4 separate regions of the Homo sapiens genome follow, and all the other regions are linked to region 2. Evidence: fine-mapped expression QTL. A gene starts in region 2. Each other region holds a variant in brackets. All regions are shown on one strand. Distances are from middle to middle. Region 1 holds the start of LOC124900233 (a long non-coding RNA gene). Region 2 holds the start of CAV2 (caveolin 2). Region 3 overlaps CAV2-DT (CAV2 divergent transcript). Region 4 has its middle 89 kb from the start of CAV2-DT.

Region 1 (5,590 bases), 160 kb after region 2:
TTAATGGGTATAGAGTTTCAGTTTTACAAGTTGAAAAGAGTTATGGAGATGGATGGTGGTTATGTGGCATAACATTATGAATGTATTTAGTACCACTGAATTGCATACTTAGAAATGGTTAAGATAGTATTTATGTATGTGTATTTTATCACTAAAAAATGGAAAAAGAAGTTCTAGAAAGAGTGAGTAGGGAAAACAGAGGGATGAAAATTATCAAAGCTGTAATAGAAGAAAATTATTCAGAGTTTTAAAAAAGACACAAATCTGCCATTTGAAAAAGCCCACAAAGTACTGAATGGGTGAGAAAAAGATCCACCAACTTATCCTAGTGAAATTTCAGAAACTTTTGAAGACTTTGTAAAGGATATGGAGAGAAAGATACTATTCATTTATATAATGAATAACATTACTAAAATTTGACTTTGTAAATGCCGTTTGTTTCCCAGCAATAATGAACCAACTATAGATGAGATTCTAAAGATTGATTAAACATATACAGGAACAAAATACAAATATGATCAGGGCCCCTGCATTAATCTGTAGGGCTGTGCACTGCTAAACTCCAGGAGGCACTGTTCTCCAAGGAGGCAGTAGTGCAGCTGCCCTGAATGTAAAACAATCCCACTGATGGGCTAGTGTTGGACAACATGCAGGGCCTAAATTGGAAACCAGAAGTAGAGGCTTAGTATACTACTGAACAATTAATTCAGGAACCTATACAAGAGCTAAAAGATTGTGTGAGCATGTGTGTTAGCATGTTTGTGTGTTCATACACACGTAAAATGAAACTCAGGAGAGAAAAGGATATCTTTTGTGTACTGAATATCTTGTACTGGGAGTGAGAAGATACTATCGAAACTTGAGTCATCAAAAAATAGAAGTATAAATGTATATCAGTCACAGTGGAGAGCAAAAAGGAAACCATCAGAACTAAAAACAGAAACTGGGAAATGGTATAAGTGACAGGGAGTAGGACAGGGAATGTAACTTTTAGTATCGTTTGAATTTTAAAAATATATGTATTATTTTGTAACAATAATAATAAAAGTAGATCAATCTGTTTTTTTAACCACATCATTACTGTACAATTACTCGGTTGCCCGGTGACTTTTCAGAGGAGCATATGCAAATCATATGCAGAGCAAACAGACTCCACATCCCTTCAGGACTATTTATGCCTCATGCTTTCTTTGACTGTAAAAAAGTTGAGGCATAGGGTGCTATTTTGTATTCTAATTGTGTGGACAAATTGTCAGTGGACTACATTTCCCCCGGGGTATGGAGCTCTCTTTGTCCCCCTTGGATATTGGCGAATGTATCTCAGATATAATCGACTACTAACACTTCAAGATCTTTATTACATATTGATTCCTTAAATACATAGATTTTATTTGAGCCTTACAATAATTCTGTGACAATTCAGAGCAGGTGTTACTATCTTCATTTTCTAGAAAAAGTTAAGCAAGGTTAAGGTGTCTCAAGTCATTGAGAAAGGGAAAGAGCCAGCACCGGTCTTCCTCTCCCTGCCCCATATGGTTTCTTAAGGTGATGGAGATTAAGTAATATTAATGCATACAGGCAGCTTTTAAAAAATGTGAAAAACACATTACCAAAGAGGAAAAAGCAGCCACTACAAACAGGAAATCCTTGTAAATGCCTCAGCTATAACCTTCCTCACCCTGAACTCTTGTTAAAATTGAACAATATGGTAGTTAAAAATGTGTCTCACAGAAAGGACTTTTGAAGGGAGCTGCAAAAGTAAAGAGAAACAAAAAGAGGAAGAAAAGTAAAAAGCTTTCCTTAAAAATGTGGAATTCCATTTAATTGCTGTGCTTGCCTGGGTCCTACGAAGCATCTTATGTTCTGAGTCCTATATTTCAAGTGCTTGCCTATGTCCTGTAAAGCGTATTCTGACTCAGAATAAAACAATGTAAAAAACAGCCTATGATTAATCTTTCCACTTGATTCTGACATTTATTCACCCTTTCTTCCTATGTGCAGAAGTGGAAGTGGGCATATGTGTGACAATGGGGGGAAAGCGGGATGAATGGCAGGGGTTAGAATAAGAAATGTAACTTATTTTTAATGTCATTTGAATTTGCTTAATATGTGCATATATGGAAGGGTTGATTAAACTATAGATAGGAAAGCATTGACCAAAGGGCTCTTTTCTAGAATGCCGTCTGACTCCTTTAAAGTTAAAATATTATTAGAGGACCATAAATTTAATCAGGAGTTTCTGGGTATATTCTGCTTTTCTTCTTCTATTAGAAATTCAAAGCTCTGCCTTCACAACACAAAACCCTTGACTTAAACATAAAAATTTTTAGATACCTCAGAGGCAGGACATTCCCTTTTTCTTGGCCCACCTGGCATCAGTGTGAATGTTTGGTGAACCTTGTCCAAATTCTGGCTCTTCCCATATTGATTCAGTTTCTATCTGCTAGAACAAGGTGACCTGCCAAGCTGTAGTGAACAAAATACGATGACTCACATGAAGTTTTTTCTTTTATTTAAACAAGTTAAGTGCAAAGACCATTGATAAGAGCAATTTTTAGCAACCTTGTTATCAGCTTATAGTGAGGCAGTCCCTCTTCCTTCCTCCCCTTTCCACCCACCCCATAGTCGTAAAACCCTCACCAGA[A/GAGAA]ACAATTTATAAAGCTTTTAAAGACAACTTTCAGGTTTGAGTGTTAGTATTTAAATGTGGAATTACTTTGAATTTGAGGCGCTTAGCCAAATTGTTACTAAAATATACTCTTTTTCTTGGCAATTACCACTGTAGACAATGTAGAGTGTTTATTTCATGTGTACCTAGCCATAAATGAATTCAAAAGTAATTTAACTTAAAGCTTTAACTAATTCTTTTAATCCCAATAACATAAAGCACTGTGTTTGGATCAGGAATCATCTTATATAACTGGCATTTAATAGGCATGACAAAATATATAATAAAGAAGTATATAACTTTTGTTGCATCTACATTAAATACAAATGAAAAATAATGAGGCTTATTTCTTCCATAGATCTCAGTGTCTTTGGAAAAAATGGACAATCAATAACTGCTGTAATATAACAGCACGATTCTATTATTTTCAGAGCTCTATAGTGAGATTAATAGTACTATTTTTAAAAATCAGAATGTGACTTTATTAAATCCCAGAAGAATGTACATTTAAGAAAAAGGGATAGAAATATCACCAAATATCTTTTCTGTATTGAATATAGCAGTCTGAATGTCACAGTCTTTAAACCTTTTTCTTCTTCCCTGAATTGCTATATCTGGTAATTTTGAAATATGAGTTAGAAACAATCAAGCTCATACCTAATGGATATCAATATTCCAGTTAATGTTTGTCCCAATGTTTTTCTCAAAGACTTAAGAAAAATGAAAATTCTATTTGACTTACGCTTATAGCAGAGATGGCTAACAACATAAAATTAATGCTATGTCTTTCTTAGTAGCTTTGTCTTGTGGCTGCCCAGCCAAAACCAACTTTTCTATACTTACTAGCAGTTAGGAGAGGCCATGTGACTAATTTCCACTAATAGAATGTGAGAGGTAGTGGCACCTGTTACTTCTGGACCCAGGTAATTAAACAGCTGGTGTGGTTTTTGCATCCTTTCTCTTGCCTCTTCCATCAGTTGGATGTTGATTTCCATGGCAACCTCTAAAGCCATGTTTTGGAGAACACATCACAGCTATCAACTTGGGTCTCTATATGACTGCATGAGACAGATGCATCGTGGCCCCAGCAGCAGACCATGAGCACCTGTGCTGGACTGTTGCATGAGCAAGAAATAAAATTCAATTGTATTAAGCCATTAGAATGTTGGGATTTATTTGTTAAAGTGCTAATGTTACCCTATTGTGCTATCCATTTTTTGTGCTATCCATTTTTCTTATGCTTGTATAAAACATTTATTAAGAGAAATCTTGTTAATCTCAACATTACTTGTTCATTGCAGAAAATGTTGACTATGTCTTATACTGACACAACAGCACAATTCTATTATTTTCCTATGAAGGTTTGAAATAATGAAATTATTATTTCAATAATAGAGGTTTGAAAATAAAATTAAAGCAAATCAAAATGACATTAACTGCCAAAGTTTTATTACATTTATTTTTAAGCACTGTGAAAAAATGTCAAGTTGTCAAGTTTCTGGTGTTTTATTCTTGTAATCCTAGTTAGAATATAGTTTTATCTTTGTCACACATGAGCATGACATTCTCTTATCTTCTCTTAAGCTCATGAGTGTGAATTAAGTAGCATATGTCACCATTCCCCAAAATCTTTTAGGATTACATTGTTCACATCTGACTCAGGAGAATAAACACATGAAATCACATTGAAGTCTTGTTGAAGTAGTCTACATGTTTGTTGATAAATAGAATTCCATGAAACATATCCTTTTAAAAGAGCTAGGCCCTTTAAAAAATAGAATTTTCATTTTTCTTAAGTCTTTGAGAAATACCTTGGGACAAACATTAACTGGAATAATGATATCAGTTAGGTAAGTAGATGGTTTCTAACTCATATTTCAAAATTACCAAGACATAGCAATTCGGGGAAGAAGAATTCAAGGAAGCTAGGCCCAGACAAGCTTCTGCTGTCTTCAGATCTATCTCAAACAATTTAATTAGTATCACTAAAAATATGGCCAATATTCTAGGCAATGCAGTTTACTTCTCAGTTTAACAACAGAGATTCCAAGTGATTAATAGTCAATAATATAGACCTTTTCATTCATTTCTTAATATCTAAGAGGGTTAGTGAAATATATTATTATTAGTATTTTCTTCCTTTAGTATTTTTCTCAGCAATATGTACTAATCAGATGGTGCTGGAACCTCCCCTTGGGCAAAATTTTGAGCTATACAGAGCATGAAGTTTCACAGTGATATCCATGTGTCTTTCACCTAGAAAGAGCTGGTTAAAAGAAAATGCAAAGGATCTGAGACTTTACCCTGCTTGCTAATTAACTTAATAGCCTACCACAGTTCCACAGAGGCTGGCAAGAAGACATGAGGCTCCTGATTGGGAGACAAGGACATTATCACGACACAGTAAGCAGCATGAACTTCATGTTTACATTGATTCTCACTTGCCTGGCTTCCCACAGGGTTGTCATGGAAGAGACCCAGAGGGATGCTGCACATGTGGTGGTGGTCTAACACAAAGAAAAGATAAATGCTGGAGGTGAGGAGTACCCCAATTACCTTGATTTAATCATTACACGTTGTATGCTGGTATCAGCATATCACATGCATCCCCAAAATTTGAACAACTATTATATATCCATAGTACTTAAAAATAAAAAATTAAAAAATGTAATATACTAGACAATGAGCTTTACAAGTGTTTTGATACTTTCCTCAGGTTTTTCTTCTCTTTGAGCATATGGCTTGAGATAGTTGAGAACATGAGACATACTAGCACCCATATTTCTTTTGTTCTCTTTTTAAACATGAACTCTAGACCCATTTCATTTTCCTCTACTTATATATCAGAATAAGTTACAGAGGAAATAAGATCTGAGAGCAGATGGGGAAGACAAAATTTAGGGTGCAGGAACAGAAGTAGGAACCTTG
Region 2 (5,590 bases):
TTTATGTGGCTAAAAAAAGGTGCATTGATGATTCACCAATTGAAGCACTATACAAAAACACCTCCCATTCTCAGAAGAGCCAGCTGGAGAGAGGCATTGCTTGGTTAATTGTAGTTTTACTTATATCTTTCCACCACTTAGTAAATGAGAAACTTTTTTTTTTCAAATTCTTTCACAAAAGCTTTGGGAAGCCTAGCTTTGTTGACTATAAATATGGTACTTCACATTTCCAAATAGCTTCATAGTCAGCATTTCACAATATGCTATGCGGTCACTCAGTTTTTCACAGTTTTGAAAGTGAGAAAACTGACATAGAGGTTAGATGATTAGTTTTAGTTAATTGGGAATCCCAAATCTTATGTGCCAACTCAGGGATCTTAAAAAAAATTCAAGTGCAAATGTCAGAATATAACTATCCATTTGACCTTCATGAAGCTGATCATGTACTAAGGCAACATTTTCATTTCCCTGGCAATCTTGGCACCTTCAACATAGTTTAATTGTTTACAACCTTTAGTGATAAAATTAAATTGGTGTTCTTTGTGTATCCTTTACGTATTTGGTGAATTTTCATTTATCCTTTCAAAGTCTTTTTCGACTCCTTTCACTCTTCAAAGCCTTGTCTGTTCCTCCCTCTTTGTCAGTTGACTGTGTTTTCTCAGCGTCCATCTCTGTACCTAGCCAGCTGCCCTGATAAGGCTGTGAGTAAGCTGAAGGCAGACCCTATCTCTCATTCATCCTGGCCCAGTGCCCAGCACAAACTAAGCACTCAATCAATTTAAAGTTTGTTGAACTAACTAGCTAGCTAACTGACTAAATAAATTAAGATTCAGGTGGTATAGAGAAATAAAGGATAAATTGGTAACTTCTAACAATGAACACCGAGTATTTATCAGGGTGTGGCAATATCATAAAAGGTGTAAGAAAGACACGGAGGTACCTTGGGTTATACCTTTCACCAGGACTAACCTGAAGCACTAGCGTGACAACTGTTGTGATACTGGGGATGATCTGAATATTCTTCCTCTCAGATTAAAGTGGATATTTTCTAACACAACAACATTTATTGGTAAAATATGACATTTTCCATAAAAAATTTAAAAGATGCTTAAGAAAGTTCTCTACAGTTTAGGACACATTTTGAGTATGAATAGAGTTACTCAAAATATCCTATCAATATACAGTGGGCTTCCATATTTCTTTCCCCTTTAATTATATGCCACTTCCATTTGTGTTTCATCAGTGAAAAAGTAATTTGGAGGCCTTCTCATTCATTATCCCGCAGCTGGAGTTTTCATTCGTTTGTACTGGGGGGGACCCTCGCCTTAACTGCACACACCTCCCTTTCCTCTGGGTCCCATCCTTGCCATCTGCCAGGGGCAAAGTTGAAGCAGCCCCTCCACACTACTGCTTAACCAGGTCTGACATCCTCATCCAATTCTACTGTCAGCGGCATTCTGCTCAGAGATCACTTTTGTTTTACCCCAAGCACAGGCAGTGACTGAATAAAAGGCAATGAAAGAAAGAAGAGTCCTGCCCAGAACCGCAGGTACGAGTCACAACAGGGCCCCGAGAGCAGCCTGTGGTAAGAAGTGTGGCTTCCAGGTACCCGCCTCCACACTCAGCCCAGCCTTATGTATGCAAGGAAAATCACACCCCAGGAAAGACCGACATTCTTTCTCCTGTTGAAACTCCAAGCCCAAACTGTTATTCTAAAGGAAGCGCATTGCCTTTCAAGGCCTTCCAGTTCTTCCTACTGCTTGGGAACTGATGCGCGTTCCTCCTCCTGACGCCGGCCTGGGATAAGAGGAGAGTAGGGGGCAGGTGGCGGAGAATATGCCCATGTTTCAGAAAGCCGGTCCACCCGGTGTGCCCCGTCTCACCAGATGTGCAGACAGCTGAGGGTGGCAAAGAGAATTCCCGCAATGAAGGCCAGGGGAATGGCCAGGAACACCGTCAGGAACTTGTACATTACGTATTTGCTGATTTCAAAGAGGGCATGGCTGCAGATCCACACTTTGTCAAAGGAGTGCGTAGTCACCGGCTCTGCGATCACATCCTCGAAGCCCAGCTGAGGAGACAGGACGCAGGGACCCCGAACTGTCAGCCAACCTGACGCCCCGGGAACCGGGAGCGCTTTGGGCGGGGGAAGCAGGAGGGAAGGACGTGCCAGGGCGTCCGCCTCTTCTCTTAGGGTCACGGTGGGCGCACAGGAACCTGGCTAAGAATTCCTGGCTACGCGGGCGGCCTGGTGACGGGTGGGACCGGGGAAGGGTGCGGGTCTCAGACCCTGCGGGGCCGACCCGGTAGCAATGGTGGGACGGGTTAGGGCGGGGCTGAGGGGCGCCCGCACCTCCCGGCCTCAGCGGGGACTTGGGCCCGCCCGCCCCGGGCTTCACCTTGAGATGCGAGTTGAGCCGGTGGGGATCCCGGTCCTGGTCCGAGTCCGCGAACTTCTCGGGGTCGGCGTACTCGAGGCCGCTGTGGTGGCTGTAGGAGTCGTCGTCCATGAAGAGCTGTACGTCCGCCTTCTCCGTCTCCAGCCCCATCGCAGCCTTGGTGCGCGGCCGCTGCAGCCCGGCTGGCGCGGTGCGGCTCCCGGTCCGCGCGGCCTCCCCTTCCCGTAGCGCCCGGCCCCGCCCCCCCTCGCCTCGCCTAGCCCTGCGAGGCCCGGGCGGCGGCCGCTTCCCGCTGTGGGCTCCAGCTCCCAGCCCGGCCGTCCCGAGCCCCGCCCCGGCGCCCCGCCGCCCCTCCCCGCCCACCTCCCCCGCCGGGGCGCAGGGAACCGTCCCCACGAGTCACAGCCCGGGCCCTGCAGTGGGCGGCGACGCCGGCAGCTGGGACGAGGAGGGCCTCCTGGTCACCCTTCTGGGGGCCCGTACTGTCATGCCTCAGAGCTGGCAAGTCGTCCCAGGGAAGACAACGGCCTTCCTGGAGGGAGGGAACCTTGTGGTTAGGCGCATGGGGTGCGAAGCAGGTATGTGCTCACCTCCGGCTGTGTTTGCCTTGCGTGCTGCGGCTCATGGTGCTGGTATTGAGCCTCTGGGAACCTCAGCTGCCTCGTTGGCAAAATGGGGGCTGTGGCATCTGTTTCAGGGGTGTCCGTGAGAATTAAATGTTAATTTCACATAAAATTCTAACACACATGGCCCATGGCCCGTAACACACAGTGATAAACTTCCAATCAACGTTGTTGCTGCTGTCGTGAGAGGTAAGGAGCCACAATGTACCTGAGTGCTAGGTACCTGAGTGCTAGGTGACCTGCAAGTGCATGTGGAGTTGGGTAGGCGAACGCCCTGGCCCTAGAGTTTGTGCCTTCAGATCTGAGGTGTGAGGGGAGATCTGATTTTTTTTTTTTTTTTTTTTTTACTTCCTAAACTACACCGTGTGTGTGTGTGTGTGTGTGTTTGTGTGTGTGTGGCAGAGTTTCGCTCTTGTTGCCCAGGCTGGAGTGCAATGGCACGATCTCGGCTCATCGCAACCTCTGCCTCCCGGGTTCAAGCGATTCTCCTGCCTCAGCCTCCCGAGTAGCTGGGATTACAGGCATGCACCACCACGCCTGGCTAATTTTGTATTTTTAGCAGAGACGGGGTTTCCCCATGTTGGTCAGGCTGGTTTCGAACTCCCAACCTCAGGTGATCCGCCCGCCTCGGCCTCCCAAAGTGCTGGGATTGCAGGCGTGAGCCACCGCGCCCGACCTCCACCTTTTAATTTTCTTGTGAACCAGACTGTCTTGAAAGATTCAGGAACTTCTAAGATGCAGTCACATCTGTGATTATCTTGCAGGCAGCACGGAAACAGAACCCTAACACAAAGCCACATTGCAATGGATGAATTAGCCTGCTGACCACTCACGCAAAGGTTTTCAGAAGGGAGGAGTTTGCATGTTCATAAAGGGCTTTAGGGTCTGGTAGACATATACGTGTGTTTGGGGAGGAAGGGCACTTAGTGAAAATTTGCCAAAAGCAAAACAATGAGAACTAGGCTTGAGGTGCAGGTTGCTCAGAGCTCAAAGTAGGCATGTAGTAGGTATTGCTGGATACAGTGTATTTGGAGCTTGTTGAACATATCAAATCCCCTTATGTGAACTGGATTTGAAGAATTGCTTCTTCCGAAAGAAAAAAGATCATTTTTGAAACAGTAAAAATTACAGAAATAAAAAAGAACAGGAACTGAATGAGAAAAATGTTTGGGGGTGGGAGGCAAAGTTCAATATTTCTAATAATTAAAAAGTTTCCCTGCTGCTACCTCAGTATATGAAGGGCAGTGTTGTAACCCTATAGGGTGTTACAGAGTTGACTCTCATGGCTATGGAGCCCCTCCTCTCCCAGACATCACCCTGCTTACCCATTCCCTTCTTTTTTACGTATCTTTCTCATTTTTATTTATGTTCAGTCAATTCCAAAGTGATGACTTAGACATTCTACTCATTGCATTTTCTCTGCTTCTCCACCTTGTCCATTCTCCTGATGAGAATTGGAACTCTTCTAGAATTGTTGCCCAACAACTGTTCATTAAAGTGAATAGAAGACATGAATCCTTATGGGAATCCATAATATCAACTGTGAGGAACAGAAAAAAAAAGGAGATAATTTACAGCCAAATACCATTTTATAATTATAATTCAAAATTATAATCCCAGATTTCAAGGTCTCACCCAAAGAAGAAAGTCACTGCCCTAGTACAAGAGTGGGCTTATGTAGTGGGTAAAAATCTGACATTAGCACTTCTTACCTTATAATTCTTGGTCCTCATTACATTTACATTTTCCATGGGATTATTAGGACATTTGAGAGTTATCACAAATAATTGATTTGTTTTCAGGAAGTGGCCAAGAGGACTCTTTAGACAACAGCTTCATTCGTAAAATGATAGGTATTTAAGAAAGGTGTCTCTAAATCCCATCTAAATGAGACCCATCTAGATTTGTTGTATGGAGCACAGAACTTGAAAGGAGAGGATTCATTTATTCATCCATTTGTAATTTTTTATTGAACAATCTTCTCTCCCTTGGGTCAGATCTGGTGAGGTTCTTATTTTGATGAAATTCTTATACATTTCAACATTTTAATACATAAGATTTTTTGAAGGAAGCTATAAAAATGATTTTGCTTATCCTATTGGCCAGTATTTAGATAAGGTTAGTGATATGGCTTGGATTTGTGTCCCTGCCCGAATCTCATGTGGAACTGTAATCCCCAGTGTTGGAGGTGGGGCTTGGTGGGAGGTAGAGATTAGATCATGGGGGCAGAGTTCTTAGGAATGGTTTAGCAACCACCCCCACTGCCACCCCTGCCCCCCGACCCCGCAGTTGGTACTGTATAGTGAGTGAGTTCTCATTAGATCTCGTCCTTCAAAAGTGTGTGGCACCTCCCCCTCACCTTTCTTTGGCTCCTTCTGTGGCCACGTGAGGTGATACTCCCTGTTTACCTTCCGCCATGATTGTAAGTTTCCTGAGGCCTCCCCAGAAGCTGAGCAGATGCCATCATAATGCTTCCTGTACAGCTAGTGGAACTGTGAGCCAACTAAACCTCTTTTCTTTATAGATTACCCAGTCTCAGGTATTTCTTTATAGCAGTGTGAGAACGGA
Region 3 (5,590 bases), 51 kb after region 2:
TTTACCTAATAAACAGAATGTTATGTAATAATAATTATATAACATTATAGGTTCAGTATATCAATTTTAATATTATTACTTTCTGTAATAATATTTGTAATATTATTTGGTATATTAATAATGTAATATTATTACATTCTGTTCTGTAATAATAATTAATGCCTTCCTAATATGGCGTGAATTTAACTCTCTGAGGCCCGAGTGCTACCCAGGATTTGACAGGCTAGTGACATTTCTGTTGTTTTAGGGATTGATTATTATTTCCTTTTGGAACAAAGTTGAACTATGCAGAGATATGTTTTGTCCTGTGTGTGTGTGTGTGTGTGTGTGTGTGTGTGTGTGTGCATATTTCTGACTAATTCTAATTGGCAATAATTGACCAATTAACTCTATGAATCACTGGAACTTTTCTACCTTTTTGGATCTATGAAACCGTTTTATCTTAAATTAGTAGATGCTATATCGTGAAGATGCCGTGTTCTGGAAAATCAAGCTATTTTGCTTCTATAGTTCTTAAACATGTCCAAGGGATATTACCAATCACAGAAGCACAGAACTATCCAGAGCATTTCTGTGCTGTAGAGATTTGCACTCAGAGGAGTGAAGGAAAAGATTTTAGAGGCCATGTGGTTGCCCATTGCCATCATTTGTGTTGCCCAAAGAAGGGAAAGGACTGTGAAATAGAATTGCCAGTGGAAACTCTCTCTGGTCTTGTCAGCAAGCTTTTTACGAAAAACACAGTCCATTCTTCCACTCCAGACCTTTTAACAGGATAACAATTGACCAACTGCCAGGATTTATTGGCCGGAATAGAAACAGACATCACCATGTCATAACACAGTCCTAAATAGGAACTTCTACATTCTTTCTATGCAGGTTCTGCATTTTTCAGGCATTTGCCTTACTTCCCCACCATGCGTATCAAACGTAAATTGATATGCTGAACCTACAGAGATGTTTGAAGGCTTTTATTTTTTCTTATATGCATTTAGAATTTTGCAAACATAATACATGCCCATTTAAAAAAATAAAATATGGAAAAATTTGTAATAACATTAGCTCCTTGCCCCATCTTCTCCTACATGTAATTCTGTTTCCCAGAGACAACAGTTTTTTTTTTCCCTAAGTGTTTCTGTCTCAAACTTCTTTCATACCTCAACTTCATAAATCTACATGCTATGTATACTATGCCACTATTTCTTAATTTTGCACTTTGGTGTAATTTATTGACTTTCTGATGTAATCGATGGAGATTTAGCAGTGTTATGTCCTCCACACCATTGCTACCCCCACCGTCACCCTCCAGCTTTGTTATAGCACTGTTCTAGCAGTACTTTATGACTTCTTGGCTATTTGTGTATCTACTGATAATAGACAGTATCTCTAGGCTTCTCAGTCCATAAAAGGACAATAGTGATTTAAACTAATTTAAACTCTTGTTTTAAACTTTCTTCCTTGTTTCCATTTCCTAATTTACATCACTTATACTTTCACGTATACACGTCAAGTTTAAAAGCATTTGCATTCTGTTCTACACCCATAATTAACACCTTTCTGATGTATACGTAGGTTGACTTTCAAGAGTTGAAAACGAACACATTCTGGGCTGTGACTTTTTTTCTGGATAACTTCACTAGTTATCCCACCTCATTCTACTTTTTGCCTCCTGTAACTTCATTTAAAACTCTTATTTGCTGATAGTCCATCTCCAGTTCTTTCTTTTTTGTGATTCTATGTTTTCTCTATATCTTTACTTTTGAAAAGATCTAGAGAAGAAAAGAGGATAAACAAATGTGCTCAGTCCACCATCTTGCACCACTCCTTTTGAATTTGATTTTCTTCCCGGTACATGTGCAACAGAAGAAATGTGTTGTACCAGTAATTATCTAGTTAGGCTTTCATGTTTTCAGTAATGTACTACTGAAACTATGTTATATACATATGCATATACATATACATACACATATACATATACATAATCATTTCATTTCTGCAGTTTAACATTTTATTACTGCTTTAAATTTAGGAAGGAAAGTGGTTCTAATTCAAAACTCTCTGAGATAGCAAATAGAGAAGGCAAACACATGGTTTGGGAAATTTGAAGAAGCATGTAAGAACTGACCATTGATTTTAATTCAGTCTTTTCACTCTGTTAACCTTAAAAATATTGAAAACAAAAGCACTTTCTTTTAAAGCATTGGCATGATATCTTGATTCCTTATTTTGTCTCCTTTTCCAATCACAGTTTACAATACACCTGGCAGGCAATACCCCATTTTGATATCTTCATCTGCACTGCAGGATAAGA[T/C]AGCAACATGCTTTCCTTTTGCCTCTGCCTTCTGTAAAGTCTGGTTTACAGTTTTAATAACTCCTTGGAACAAGTTACTGTACAACATAAACATATATTCCTGTTTATTCAGAGTGACGGTTTTGTTATTATTGTATTATAAAAACAATTGTGATTCTAAATAAAATATACCCGTAAATTAAAACTCAGGGATCAACTTAACTATAATATATACACAATTTAAGGTCCCCAAAATTTTATTTCACAAAATTCATCTAGCCTGAAATAGTTGCTTATAACTCAGGCAATGTCTGCATGATTCATTTTTTAAGTACATAAAATTTATATCTCCCTGTTTTCTTACTCATCTCTAGCAGGATGATCTTTTTGAATATTCTCATTATCCCTTTGTGAGCTCAGGGAGTGCCCTGATGCCCCAGCCGGCCTCACTGCTTTGTCCTGGACTGAAAATGGCCTTTGGAAAAGATAACTTCAAAAAAAGAGAGATAATGCAGCTTAATGGTGAAAGGGTTTGGCTTGGAGGCCAGGCATTGAGTGCCAGTCCTGGCTTAATACCTTTCTGGCTGGGTGACCTGGAACACTTGACTTATTCTCTCAAAGCTTGTGAAATGGGAATAATAATAATAATAATACTTACCTCATAGAGACATCAAGAGGCTAAAATAAAATAATGCATGGGAAAACAGCAAAATGTTGACATACTAAGTACACATTAATATTGTTTATTTTTATTCTTACTAATTTGACTTGTTAATGATTCAAAAGTATTAATCCTGTGTAAGCACACAGAAATACCTACATATGAACTTGTCCTTAAGTTTTTGAGGATCTAAAATGCATTCTGAGGGAGCTTTTCAGTATGAGGAACTTTTCCTTATTTCACTTTAGAGGTATGATTTGTATTTTAGGAATTGTTTGCACAGTATGCAGACAGAAATACTGAGCCCAACTTTTACTTTTTCTTCAAGTAGGACGTCAAGTTTGTATATAGTTTATTCATATCTAAATCCCTGTTTTTATTAAGTTGCCTTCAGTGTCTTGACATAAAGATTAGTTTCATAAAACTTGAGCTGTCTAGTTAAACCTGTTTAATGTTTACTTTGCATAGCAAGCAAATCCCTATATTTCTAAGAGGGAAGTTTGTGTGCCCCTAACTAGGCAAAGAAGAAAAGATGAGTTAGGGGTAGGGGAAATACTAAAGACTCGATTTTATTATTATTATTATATTAATTATTTAAAAAGAGTTTTAAAATTTTGATAGCTTTTGGGGAACAAGTGATTTTTGGTTACATGGATGAATTGTATAGTGGTGAAATCTGAGATTTTAGTGTACCTGCCACCTGAACAGTGTATGTGGTAATCAATATGTAATTTTCTTCCCTCGCCCTCCTCTTACCCTCCCTCTTCTGAGTCTCCAATGGCCATTATACCACTCTGTCTGCCTTTGCGTACCCATAACTTAAAGACTCGATTTTAGTCCTGACTCTTCTGCCAGCTTTCTTAAGTCAGTTCGTGAACTGACTTAAATCAATTCTTGTACACTTATCCTGTACTATGTTTCAGGAACTGAAGTAGAGAGACAAATAAAATCCCTTTCCTTAGAAAACACACACAGCTTGGTTTGGAAGGCTGGTAAGTACAATCCAGTGTCTGTGACAATACGTAAACAATGTGACAATACACACATCACCAAAAGGGGGTTTGGGACAGGATGCTTATGTCCTGGAGGAAGGGATATCCTACTATATATATAAGACACCTTGGCAGAGGTGGATGCAAGTTTAGTGGGGTCTGAAGCTTATACAAATTTTTTGTGTATGTGGGGAGAGAGGGAGTGGTTTAAAATAAAATGAAAAAAATTAAGTACATGGCTTTGGAAGAGAATGGTGGTGAAGTGCCCTGCTGTCTTAGCTTCCTTAGCTTCAGGGTAAATCCCCCATCATCTCCCAGGGGAAAAAGTAGAAAATGTTCTGGGAGTCAGAGTTTGAGAAAAAAACTGCCATCTAGGAACTTTCCAGTACAGCTAGCAGTACAGAGTGTCAGTGCTGAAGGGAGACGTCATCAGAGGGAGACGTAAGGAGGGACAGGATCTTGAAGGATCTAACATAACTAGGACTTAGACGATCTTTCCTCCAGAATTCTATCTGAATATTACAGGAAACAACTGAGGTATTTTTTCTCTCTTTTAAAGAAATTTAATTGTGGTAAAATACACATAATAGAACAGTTGCCATCTTAACCATTTTTAAATGTACAATTCAGTAGAGTTAAGTATATTCATATTGTTGTGCAACCAATCTCCAGAACTCCTTTCATCTTCCAAGACGAACTCTATACCCATTAAACAACTCCCCATTCACGTTTCCTCCCAGCCTCTGGAGACCACCATTCTGCTTTCTGTTTCTATAAATTGACTCCTTTAGGTACCTCATATAAGTGGAATCATAGAGTATTTTTGTCTATAAAGCCAACCTCTCCAAGCTGCCTGATCTCAATGCATTCCATATGAACATTATTAAATCTTTCATTATTTGTCCTATTCTAAATATAGTTGATGTAAAGAAATGACTGAGTACTGTTGATTTCCGTTCTATTCCAAATTTTAATTAGAAAGTGTTTGTGAGAGTTTAAACAGCATAGTTTGTTCCCAGAATTTTATCTCTTTTGTATCTTTTGCCCTAGTGACAAATATGCAAGACTTGTTTCATTTATGACCTTGTATGGTAGCCCCTTTGGTATGGATTAATTTGTTTAATGAGATGTTTAAGAAAGACAGCTGGTTAACAAATTATTTCCTCTCATGTATTTCCAAATTTGCGTTACTTAAAAGATGGCCTTGGAAAAAGGTCCTCATGAGTTTGAGATTTTTCTAGTGAATGCCAAAAGAAGTCTTGTTTATGGCCTGATTCTTCAAGGACACAGTATCTTTTTGTTTAGTATGCATCATTTTCAATATGATTTTCATGGCTGTAAAGGGGAAGCACATTATTTTCGTGTATTAATAGAGGCACCAAGATAGAAACTGAGAAAGGTGTGAGAACGTCTGTTATGTTTTCTAGCATTTCATAGTATGAAACCTTAAGACTCACATTATTAGTTAAGCCTTTGTATAATAACAGAAACTCACCTTTTGCCAAAATTATTTAATTATATATTGTTCATACCTTAATTATTTGATGAATGGATAAGGACGACTAGAGGCAATACCGTGAAATGGAATTTTGGGGGCATCTTGCTTACTCTTCGTGTGTCTTACCCCTCAACTAGCATTCGGGTGACCTT
Region 4 (5,590 bases), 89 kb after region 2:
TACACAATCATGTCATCTGCAAACAGGAACAATTTGACTTCCTCTTTTCCTAATTGAATACCTTTTATTTCCTTCTCCTGCCTAATTGCCCTGGCCAGAACTTCCAACACTATGTTGAATAGGAGTGGTGAGAGAGGGCATCCCTGTCTTGTGCCAGTTTTCAAAGGGAATGCTTCCAGTTTTTGCCCATTCAGTATGATATTGGCTGTGGGTTTGTCATAGATAGCTCTTATTATTTTGAGATATGTCCCATCAATACCTAATTTATTGAGAGTTTTTGCATGAAGGGCTGTTGAATTTTGTCAAAGGCCTTTTCTGCATCTATTGAGATAATCATGTGGTGTTTGTCTTTGGTTCTGTTTATATGCTGGATTACATTGATTGATTTGCGTATATTGAACCAGCCTTGTATCCCAGGGATGAAGCCCACTTGATCATGGTGGATAAGCTTTTTGATGTGCTGCTGGATTCGGTTTGCCAGTATTTTATTGAGGATTTTTCCATCAATGTTCATCAAGGATATTGGTCTAAAATTCTCTTTTTTTGTTGTGTCTCTGCCTGGCTTTGGTATCAGGATGATGCTGGCCTCATAAAATGAGTTAGGGAGGATTCCCTCTTTTTCTATTGATTGGAATAGTTTCAGAAGGAATGGTACCAGTTCCTCCTTGTACCTCTGGTAGAATTCGGCTGTGAATCCATCTGGTCCTGGACTCTTTTTGGTTGGTAAGCTATTGATTATTGCCACAATTTCAGCTCCTGTTATTGGTCTATTCAGAGATTCAACTTCTTCCTGGTTTAGTCTTGGGAGAGTGTATATGTCGAGGAATTTATCCATTTCTTCTAGATTTTCTAGTTTATTTGCGTAGAGGTGTTTGTAGTATTCTCTGATGGTAGTTTGTATTTCTGTGGGATCGGTGGTGATATCCCCTTTATCATTTTTTATTGCATCTATTTGATTCTTCTCTCTTTTCTTCTTTATTAGTCTTGCTAGCGGTTTATCAGTTTTGCTGATCCTTTCAAAAAACCAGCTCCTGGATTCATTAATTTTTTGAAGGGTTTTTTGTGTCTCTATTTCCTTCAGTTCTGCTCTGATTTTAGTTATTTCTTGCCTTCTGCTAGCTTTTGAATGTGTTTGCTCTTGCTTTTCTAGTTTTTTTAATTGTGATGTTAGGGTGTCAATTTTGGATCTTTCCTGCTTTCTCTTGTGGGCATTTAGTGCTATAAATTTCCCTCTACACACTGCTTTGAATGCGTCCCAGAGATTCTGGTATGTTGTGTCTTTGTTCTCGTTGGTTTCAAAAAACATCTTTATTTCTGCCTTCATTTCGTTATGTACGCAGTAGTCATTCAGGAGCAAGTTGTTCAGTTTCCATGTAGTTGAGTGGTTTTGAGTGAGTTTCTTAATCCTGAGTTCTAGTTTGATTGCACTGTGGTCTGAGAGACAGTTTGTTATAATTTCTGTTCTTTTACATTTGCTGAGGAGAACTTTACTTCCAACTATGTGGTCAGTTTTGAAATAGGTGTGGTGTGGTGCTGAAAAAAATGTATATTCTGTTGATTTGGGGTGGAGAGTTCTGTAGATGTCTATTAGGTCCGCTTGGTGCAGAGCTGAGTTCAATTCCTGGGTATCCTTGTTGACTTTCTGTCTTGTTGATCTGTCTAATGTTGACAGTGGGGTGTTAAAGTCTCCCATTATTAATGTATGGGAGTCTAAGTCTCTTTGTAGGTCACTCAGGACTTGCTTTATGAATCTGGGTGCTCCTGTATTGGGTGCATATTTATTTAGGATAGTTAGCTCTTCTTGTTGATTTGATCCCTTTACCATTATGTAATGGCCTTCTTTGTCTCTTTTGATCTTTGTTGGTTTAAAGTCTGTTTTATCAGAGACTAGGATTGCAACCCCTGCCTTTTTTTGTTTTCCATTTGCTTGGTAGATCTTCCTCCATCCTTTTATTTTGAGACTATGTGTGTCTCTGCACGTGAGATGGGTTTCCTGAATATAGCACACTGATGGGTCTTGACTTTTTATCCAATTTGCCAGTCTGTGTCTTTTAATTGGAGCATTTAGTCCATTTACATTTAAAGTTAATACTGTTATGTGTGAATTTGATCCTGTGATTATGATGTTAGCTGGTTATTTTGCTCATTAGTTGATGCAGTTTCTTCCTAGTCTTGATGGTCTTTACATTTTGGCATGATTTTGCAGCGGCTGGTATTGGTTGTTCCTTTCCATGTTTAGCGCTTCCTTCAGGAGCTCTTTTAGGGCAGG[T/C]CTGGTGGTGACAAAATCTCTCAGCATTTGCTTGTCTGTAAAGTATTTTATTTCTCCTTCACTTATGAAGCTTAGTTTGGCTGGATATGAAATTCTGGGTTGAAAATTCTTTTCTTTAAGAATATGGAATATTGGCCCCCACTCTCTTCTGGCCTGTAGGGTTTCTGCCGAGAGATCCGCTGTTAGTCTGATGGGCTTCCCTTTGTGGGTAACCTGACCTCTCTCTGGCTGCCCTTAGCATTTTTTCCTTCATTTCAACTTTGGTGAATCTGACAATTATGTGTCTTGGAGTTGCTCTTCTCGAGGAGTATCTTTGTGGCGTTCTCTGTATTTCCTGAATCTGAATGTTGGCCTGCCTTGCTAGACTGGGGAAGTTCTCCTGGATAATATCCTGCAGAGTGTTTTCCAACTTGGTTCCATTCTCCCCATCACTTTCAGGTACACCAATCAGATGTAGATTTGGTCTTTTCACATAGTCCCATATTTCTTGGAGGCTTTGCTCATTTCTTTTTATTCTTTTTTCTCTAAACTTCCCTTCTCGCTTCATTTCATTCACTTCATCTTACATCACTGATGCCCTTTCTTCCAGTTGATCGCATTGGCTCCTGAGGCTTCTGCATTCTTCACGTAGTTCTGGAGCCTTGGTTTTCAGCTCCATCAGCTCCTTTAAGCACTTCTGTGTATTGGCTATTCTAGTTATATATTCTTCTGAACTTTTTTCAAAGTTTTCAACTTCTTTGCCTTTGGTTTGAATGTCCTCCCGTAGCTCAGAGTAATTTGATCGTCTGAAGCCTTCTTCTCTCAGCTCGTCAAAGTCATTCTCCATCCAGCTTTGTTCCATTGCTGGTGAGGAACTGCGTTCCTTTGGAGGGGGTGAGGCGCTCTGCTTTTTAGAGTTTCCAGTTTTTCTGCTCTGTTTTTCCCCATCTTTGTGGTTTTATCTACTTTTGGTCTTTGATGATGGTGATGTACAGATGGGTTTTTGGTGTGGATGTCCTTTCTGTTTGTTAGTTTTCCTTCTAACAGACAGGACCCTCAGTTGCAGGTCTGTTGGAGTACTGGGCTGTGTGAGGTGTCAGTCTGCCCCTGCTGGGGGGTGCCTCCCAGTTAGGCTGCTCATGGGTCAGGGGTCAGGGACCCACTTGAGGAGGCAGTCTGCCCGTTCTCAGATCTCCAGCTGCGTGCTGGGAGAACCACTGCTCTCTTCAAAGCTGTCAGACAGGGACATTTAAGTCTGCAGAGGTTACTGCTGTCTTTTTGTTTGTCTGTGCCCTGCCCCCAGAGGTGGAGCCTACAGAGGCAGGCAGGCCTCCTTGAGCTGTGGTGGGCTCCACCCAGTTCTAGCTTCCCGGCTGCTTTGTTTACCTAAGCAAGCCTGGGCAATGGCGGGCGCCCCTCCCCCAGCCTTGCTGCCTCCTTGCAGTTTGATCTCAGACTGCTGTGCTAGCAATCAGCGAGACTCCACGGGCGTAGGACCCTCCGAGCCATGTGCGGGATATAACCTCCTGGTGCGCCGTCTTTTAAGCTTGTCGGAAAAGTGCGGTATTCGGGTGGTAGTGACCCGATTTTCCAGGTGCCGTCTGTCACCCCTTTCTTTGACTAGGAAAGGGAACTCCCTGACCCCTTGTGCTTCCTGAGTGAGGCAATGCCTCGCCCTGCTTCGGCTGGCGCACGGTGCGCGCACCCACTGACCTGTGCCCACTGTCTGGCACTCCCTAGTGAGATGAACCCGGTACCTCAGATGGAAATGCAGAAATCACCCGTCTTCTGCGTCGCTCACGCTGGGAGCTGTAGAGCGGAGCTGTTTCTATTCGGCCATCTTGGCTCCTCCCTAGTGGACTGTCTTGCTTTGTCTGGTAGTTCTACAGAATTAAGCTTTATTATCCTAAAAAAGAAATTATCACATCTCCAGGAAAAGCTTCCTCTGGGGTATAAGCATTTTGCAAATCTAGGGAGTCCCTGTGTGAAGTATCACTTGCCTATTTATTGAGTGTTTCCCTAAATGACTAGTGTCATCTCCCAATGGTCATTAATATTCTTCTCCAAAGGTTCTATCTGTCAAAAATGGGGAAATGTGACCCAGTATAAATAGGATGAGGTATTTTCATTGGTACTTGTGGTCTACCCTGGCTTGCTGCTGCTCCCAAGGGGAGACAGAAGTTCTGTTCAACACAGTTGGAAAGTTTCTGGACTCCAAGTGTCAAACCAGGAGTGGAGACGCAGCAATTTTCAAAAGAAAACAAAACAAACAGTCGACACATCTATCTCCTTTTCTCTTCTAGTGCATATTCTATCACCTCCTCATTTAAATTGCACTCTCTCACTTTTGTTTGAACTAAAGCTTGTGTTCATCTTGAGCCAATAAAAACTACAAAAAGGAAACATCTGTATTGTTAAGTAACTAATGCTGCTATGATAACCCAGCAAAGTAACAATCTAATTAAAGATCATATGGCCAAGGTTTTAGCAGATAATCTTTTCAAGGCAGAATAAAATTTGTTACTATGTATAACTGTTACATTTACATACATGAAATTAGATTTGTATCTAATTTATTTTTGTATTACCTTATATTTTTTAATATTTTAAATATGTACTGTTAATATTCCATGACATTTGATCTTTGAAACAAATTGAAAGATGGGTATGTTACATAGACTTAAAGACATATAAATAATTAGTAAAATTGCTGACACAAGAGCCTAGCAAATTCCTTACAAAATTATCTATGTTAGAAAATATGGTTAAATTCTAATGAAGCGAGTTGTTTTGGAAATTTTCATTGACTTGCTGGTAGGGTTTTTAAATAATGCAGAAGCTTTCTGGAAGGCAATTTCAAAAACTTTAAGTGTTCATACCCTTTGACCAGAAATTCTACTTCCAAGAATATTTTCTAAGTAAATAATTAGGTATTTGCAGAAAGACTTAGCTACAAAGAGGACCTCTGAAGCATTGCTCATGTATTATTTAGAGTAAATAACAATAGTACTTGCCTTTATTAAAAAACCAGCATGGCACATGTATACATATGTAACTAACCTGCACAATGTGCACATGTACCCTAAAACTTAAAGTATAATAAAAAAAAAAGTAATCCAGAAATTTTATGACTCAACATTCAGAAATGTATATTTTTTGCTTACAGAAGTTCCACAATGGATGTTCCTGATGAGTGTGCATTCGTATAATTATTCAGAGACTCAAACTCCTACCATTTAATGTCTCCTCCATTTCTGGAGTCCCAGGAGTCCTCTTCAAGAGAGCCTCTGTCTTTGGCTGACCTTCATGAGAAAGTATATGGAGGTCACATGGGTGATATTT

Evidence for each region.
Region 1: its variant is fine-mapped to the expression of CAV2 in whole blood (INTERVAL, PIP above 0.99).
Region 3: its variant is fine-mapped to the expression of CAV2 in lung (TOPMed, PIP 0.96).
Region 4: its variant is fine-mapped to the expression of CAV2 in whole blood (INTERVAL, PIP above 0.99).

Annotation. Positions count from the first base shown.
Region 1 is chr7:116,336,699-116,342,288 of GRCh38, reverse strand. LOC105375463 (a long non-coding RNA gene) reads right to left here. Exons shown (of 7, transcript XR_001745336.2): 7 at 5,081-5,169. It overlaps LOC124900233 (a long non-coding RNA gene), which reads right to left and starts at 5,076. Exons shown (of 3, transcript XR_007060487.1): 1 at 4,995-5,076; 2 at 2,370-2,466. The variant A/GAGAA (reference allele first, on the strand shown) is at 2,645.
Region 2 is chr7:116,496,741-116,502,330 of GRCh38, reverse strand. CAV2 (caveolin 2) reads right to left here and starts at 2,593. Exons shown (of 3, transcript NM_001233.5): 1 at 2,400-2,593; 2 at 1,884-2,071. The coding sequence starts at 2,549. It overlaps CAV2-DT (CAV2 divergent transcript), which reads left to right and starts at 2,815. Exons shown (of 3, transcript NR_188012.1): 1 at 2,815-2,977. RefSeq lists silencers at 542-836, 2,621-2,710 and enhancers at 2,891-3,030, 3,077-3,578.
Region 3 is chr7:116,445,386-116,450,975 of GRCh38, reverse strand. The region is part of intron 1 of CAV2-DT (CAV2 divergent transcript); the gene reads left to right. Among named protein-coding and RNA genes, the nearest start is that of CAV2-DT, 51 kb to the left of the region's middle. RefSeq lists a silencer at 2,215-2,542. The variant T/C (reference allele first, on the strand shown) is at 2,309.
Region 4 is chr7:116,407,372-116,412,961 of GRCh38, reverse strand. No RefSeq gene overlaps it. Among named protein-coding and RNA genes, the nearest start is that of CAV2-DT, 89 kb to the left of the region's middle. The variant T/C (reference allele first, on the strand shown) is at 2,270.